2 separate regions of the Homo sapiens genome follow, and region 2 is linked to region 1. The links come from fine-mapping of genetic effects on plasma protein levels. A gene starts in region 1. The other region holds a variant in brackets. All regions are shown on one strand. Distances are from middle to middle.

Region 1 (2,903 bases):
TCCCCAGAAAGCTGCACTGGGTGGTGTGAGGGATTGGGGCAATGAGCCGAGGGCCCTGGGGTGACTGTTTCCCCTTTGCCACCTCCCCCCAGTGTGGGATGTGGAACAAGTCCGTCTCTCTCCTCCCCTCCACCCTTTCCCCCATCTCACCTGAGCCTCCTGCACCTTCCCTGCCTGGGTCTCCAGAGGGTGAGAGGCTGGGGGAGGGGAGCAGAGGTGGTTACAGTGGGGAGAACGATTAAGGGGGGAATAAAGGGGTTCAAATGGTCAGTGAGGGGGCAAGAACACCCACCAACCTAGTTACACTGGGATGGGATGGTGGTAAAAATGGAGCAGAGGGAGGGAGGGGACGGAGAAAAGATCTTATCTACATGCAAAGTGATGCCGGGAGAGGTGATTAGTGAGGGGCAGAGAGGCTGGAGAGGAAGATTTAGGGGGACAGGGAGAAAGTAGGGGCTTTTGCCCAGGCTGGTCTTGAACTCCTGGGCTCAAGCGATCCAACCACCTTGGCCTCCCAAAGTACTGGGATTACAAGCATGAGCCATTGTTTCTGGCCCTGACTTACTTTCTTTCTTTTTTACTTTTTAGAGAAAGGGTCTCGCTCATGTCACCCAGGTTGGAGTGCAATAGTGCGATCATAGCTCACTGCAGCCTCAAATTCCTGGGCTCAAGCGATCCTCCTCCTCCTACCTAGGGGATTCAGGGCATGAAGGAACACTCAGGAGGAGTTAGGAAGGACACGACAGTGTGTGAGTGTGTGTGCGGGGAGGGTTAGATTTACAAGGCAGAGGGAAGTTTAGAAAGGAAAAGAGAAGGGAAGAGACGCTTTGGCTGGGAGGCAGGTTTAGGAGGGAGGTGCAGTGGTGCAGTGGAGGCGGTAGGTTTAGGAGAGGCGCGGAACAAGGGGAAGCCATAGGAGGGGTCAGCAGGGGTCCCTCAGCATCCTCTGGTTGCCTCTAACAATCAGGTACCCATAGCAAGCGGGACCGGGGCAACTTATGTTCTTTGCAGCGAGGGACCTTAGCAACCAAGGTGCGAGAAACACGCGATCATTGGCAACTTGGCAAGTGGATGTGGTAAACGAACCCTGAACACACTGCGACCCAGAAACCCACCAGCCTAGCGATACAGATCGCTAAGCAACAGCCCTCAGAATCCCACTCCCCGAAGCGCTCCCTACTTCCCGCCCCACCGCGGCCACCCTTGGGCCCCGGGGCCTGCAGCATTCAGCCAGGCCCCGGCGCGGCCCGACCCTCCTACCCGGATCCCCGACTCACGGTCTGGCTCTGCCATGGGCGCGGTGCTGAAGCCCTTGAGGCTGTCACCGACCGCTCTGTCCCGTCACCAACCACTGTGTCCCGTCACCGACTGCTCTGTCCTGTCACCGACTGCTCTGTCCCGTGACGGCACCAGAAATGGGAGTGGCCGTGATAGGGCACAGAACTACAACTCTCAGCAGACATTGCGGCCGCAGACGCGCTTTCGTACAACACCCAGAGCGCCCCAGTTAGGTAAGAAAGCGCGCGAGGACCGGACTACGAGTCCCAGAAGGCGTGGCGTCAGCAGCCATGTTGGTAAAGGGCGCCCGGAAAATGTGGGAACGGCTAGAGAGTTGTAGTCCTCCCGAATACTCTGATTGGTCAGGATGCAGTACGAGGGCGGGGTGTGAGCGATTCAGCATATTATCATTGGGTGAATCAGGGGGCGTGGTGGGGAATTTCCCGCAGGGCGGAAGCTCCAGAACTCCCGGCAAAGCCCAGCTACAGGCGGGCGACTGCGGGGGGCCCCTGAGGCGGCGGGGGCCATGGCTGGGGTCGCGTGCTTGGGAAAAGCTGCCGACGCAGATGAATGGTGCGACAGCGGCCTGGGCTCCCTGGGTCCGGACGCAGCGGCCCCCGGAGGACCTGGGTTGGGCGCGGAGTTGGGCCCGGGGCTGTCGTGGGCTCCCCTCGTCTTCGGCTACGTCACTGAGGATGGGGACACGTGAGTGAACCTTAGGCTGCCAAACGGAGCCCTAGGACCCGGCGTCACATTCCTCATTAATCTCTGATCCCTGAGGCTTCCTAACCTCATACTCCTAAATCTGACTTCCGATGCTGAACTTCCTGACCTCTAACCCCCGAGTCCTAACTTTTAACAAAACCAATCTTCTATCTAGCTATGATCCTAACCCAATCATTTCTTACCTTCTTTTCTTGAACTATGATTCTCAGCTCCTGGAATCCACATTGTATCCACTGATACCCAAACCTGACTCCAGTCCTGAGACTTCTGTTAGAACTGTGGCTTCTCCTGACTTCTAACCTCCAAATATGATCTTTGATTCTTAGTTCCCGATTTGAGCCCTAGAGTTTGATTTCCGAAATTAATACTTGGTCCCTGACTCTAAGATCCTGTCTTCTGAGCAGTGTTCTTCAAATCTTAAATTCAAAGAGAGAGAATGTAAGCTCTTCTATGTTGAATTCCTAATTAAAGTAAAAAAATAGGAAAATTAAAAAAAAGAATGTTAGCTCCATGAGACCAAGGATTCATCTGTTAAACAAATATTCTTTACACATTACCACGTTCCAGGCTCCGTTTAGGTGCTAGTGATAAAGGCAGTGAAGAAAACAAACAAAAACTTAAGCCCTTGTGGAGCATACATTTTAGTGGAGCTAAATAAACAGATTGATAAGACCACAAGGAAGGAAAGAAATGGAAAGACAGGAAGAAACAAAGAAAGACACGCAGAAAGAAAGAAACATAGAAAGTAAGAAAAGGAAATAAAGTCAGAGGTAGTTAAGTACTTTGGAGAAAAATAAAGCAGGAAAATGAGGCAATAGATAAACAAGATAAGAGCATTTCAAGGAGAAGGAACTGCAGTTGCAAAGGCCCAGATGAGGGATTGTACTGGGTTTTTTGTC
Region 2 (2,903 bases), 11 kb before region 1:
TGCCCTCTGCCTCCTACCAGCCCCAGGTGGGAACACCTCGCCCACCTGAGAAATCTGAACTTAAAGCCAGTTGTTCCTCCCCCTGGCGGTAGCTTTTGGGGCTGCAGGTGCCAAACTGCAGGTACAGGGAGAAAACACTAGAACACTTATTTATTTTCAATGTTACCACTCTTTTTTGTTTGTTTGTTTGTTTTTTTAAATTGAGATGGAGTCTTGCTCTGTCACCCAGGCTGGAGTGCAGTGGCACAATCTTGACTCACTACAACCTCTGCCTCCCAGGTTCAAGCGATTCTCCTGCCTCAGCCTCCCGAGTAGCTGGGGTTACAGGCACCACCACACCTGGCTAATTTTTGTATTTTTAGTAGAGACCAGATTTCATGATGTTGGACAGGCTGGTCTTGAACTCCTGACCTCGTGATCTGCCCACCTCGGTGTCCCAAAGTGCTGGGATTACAGGCGTGAGCCACCGCGCCCGGCCACCTGTTTTATAATTCGGGGTTCTGAGGTGTGATCTAGAGCTTGAATTAATACTGTTGTAGTGCATCATGTCATTTCTATACATATTCATAAAACAGGTAGAGGCAGCAACATTTTGTTGTTGTTTTGATTTGTTTTTTGTTTCTTTGAAACCAGGTCTCCCAGGCTACAGTACAGTGGCACCATCATAGCTCACTGCAGTCTTGACTTCCTGAACTCAAGCAATCCCCCTACCTCAGCCTCCTGAGTAGCTGGGGCTACAGGCACACGCCACCCTGCCCAGCTAATTTTTGTATTTCTTGTAGAGACAGGGTCTCCCTATGTTGCCCAGGCGGGTCCCAAACGCCTGGGCTCGAGCTATCTCTCGCTTTGGCCTCCCAAAGTGCTGGGATTACAGGTGTGAGCCACTGTGCCCAGCCCATCAAGATTTTTTTACTGTTAGGGGTGTGAGACTCTCCAAACCAGAAGCCAACAATGTGAGCCATCCTTGCTTGAATGCCCCAGGGAGAGGCCCTTGGCTAAGCACCTGACGTGTACGAGACATGTTTATAATTGGGCAAAGCACAAAAAACTATAAAAAGGTGCCCCTTCCTTAAGGCACAACATCTACTTGTTGGACACGTGTCATAGTGTATGGATTTTGTTAGATGAAGTCACTTTGGAAACTCGCTCATAACCAATGTGAAATCTGGGGTGCCTATAGTGCACACAGAGTCCCTTCAGCCATAGGCTCCTTCCACATCACACATGGGATGGCCCTGAGAGGAGGTCACTGCCACCGCACTGCAGACCTGAGAGGGCAGACCTGAGAGGGCAAACCTTTTCTGGCCCCTGTTTGACGGAAGGGGAAACTGAGGCAGAGAAGACGTGACTCACGGCAGGTCATGCAGCAAGGAGGCAGTAGGCCAAGCCCTGGCCCCGCATTGCTGGAGTCCCCGCCTGAGCTCTTGGGCACGCAGCTCTGCTCCTCTGCTGAGGACACCATGCCCGTTCCACCCGCCCATCCTCCTCCCAGGATGCTCGCATCCGCCTACCTGCGTGTAGCAGCGCAGGAGTAGCCCCTTGTCCTTCAGCAGG[C/T]GCATGAAGTAGTGACAGATGGTTGGCTGCAGGGAAGAGCGACAGCACTGCTGACGACTGCAGGGAACAGCCACAGGCCACTGCCGCATGCCAGGAACTGTTCTAGGCACTGTGACTGTTTTACCCCCAGGGAACCGTCACAGCAGCCGCGTCGGGGAGAGACCACTGCTATCCCCAGATCACAGATGAGGAAACTGAAGGACAGGGAAGGGGATTGTGTTGCCAAAGTCACACGGTGGGTAAGCTGCAGAGCTGAGATTCACACCCAGGCAGCCCGGCTGCAGGGTCCCGGGCTCTCAACGGCATCATTAGTCAGCTAAGCCTCGCAGCAGCCCTCTTCAGACAGTACCATTAGCTTCACTTCACAGGAGGCAAATCGGAGGCTCAAGGTCGTAAGATGAAGACACGAGGAACCAGGACTTGAACCGAGGCAGTCTGGGCCCAGCACCCATGTACTTAATGGCTACATAATATTTGTCTGCAGGGCCTTGGCGGGGCTTCTCATGCGTGCCCTCCCCCAACCCTTCCTGTTTCGCCCCCTGCAAAACAAAGATCTCACCTTGAACTGCCCAGGATAGAGTTCCTTGGCGAGGGCGAAGAAGGGTTCCGGATGTTTCTGTAGGAGAGACAGCCAGAGGGCCAGATGCCCCAGGTAGCGTGAGGGTTGGAGCCAGGTGACCCCATCCCCACCCCTCACAGACGCCCCTTCCTGGGGGAGCACAAACCTTGAAATAGCTGATCTCAAAGATGGCCTCTGGGTAGGGAAGATGGTACTTCTCTAGGTTGTCATAGAGGCCGGTGGATGGAGAGCGAAAGTCGGGGATGCCTGCGGCTAGGAAAGGGGGGTCAGGGAGCAGTTGGTCTATACCATACTAACCCTCCCAGGACAGGGCTCAGATAGGGCTCCTCCCCAGCCCTTGGGAGGGACTCCCCAGTTCCTGGGGGTAGCTGCTGGGGGAGAAGGGTTACTTACATGTGGAGATTCCAGCTCCCACCAAACAGATGACTCTGCGACCTGGAGGAGAGGAACTTATGCACCATATGACACCGTTTGCTCAGTCCCTACGATAGCACCACCCATCACAGCCCCTGACATCGTTTACTCCATGCCAGGCCCTGGGGCAAGCATCTCAGATGCATGACGGGCCTTCCAATCATCTAGACGGGGATGGTGTTAACATCCCCATTTTATAAATGAGAAAACTGGGGCTCAGATAGGGGAAGAAGTCACACAATCAACTGCGGAAGAGCCAGCCAGCGGATAAAGAATCCAGTGTTGGGCTGGGTGCAGTGGCTCATGCCTGTAATCCCAGAACTTTGGGAGGCTGAGGCAGGCGGGTCATCTGAGG

Alleles and levels. Alleles are on the strand shown, and positions count from the first base shown. The strength of an association depends on the size of the effect and on how common the allele is.
In carriers of allele C in region 2, the plasma level of the protein whose gene starts at base 1,390 in region 1 tends to be higher than with T alone (moderate association).

Evidence for each region. PIP is the posterior inclusion probability: the model's chance that the variant is causal. Protein levels are from antibody-based Olink assays in UK Biobank. Linkage for the fine-mapping came from a reference panel and not from the study's own genotypes, which makes the PIPs less certain.
Region 2: its variant is fine-mapped to the plasma level of the SIRT2 protein (UK Biobank, PIP above 0.99). The variant lies in the coding sequence of SIRT2. If it changes the protein, the assay may bind it differently, which can mimic a change of level.

What each region holds. Positions count from the first base shown.
Region 1 is chr19:38,898,229-38,901,131 of GRCh38, forward strand. It overlaps SIRT2 (sirtuin 2), which reads right to left and starts at 1,390. Exons shown (of 16, transcript NM_012237.4): 1 at 1,278-1,390; 2 at 151-197. The coding sequence starts at 1,293. NFKBIB (NFKB inhibitor beta) reads left to right here and starts at 1,741. Exons shown (of 6, transcript NM_002503.5): 1 at 1,741-1,983. The coding sequence starts at 1,805.
Region 2 is chr19:38,887,576-38,890,478 of GRCh38, forward strand. It overlaps SIRT2 (sirtuin 2), which reads right to left. Exons shown (of 16, transcript NM_012237.4): 5 at 2,528-2,569; 6 at 2,280-2,386; 7 at 2,114-2,170; 8 at 1,512-1,580. Among named protein-coding and RNA genes, the nearest start is that of SIRT2, 11 kb to the right of the region's middle. The variant C/T (reference allele first, on the strand shown) is at 1,555.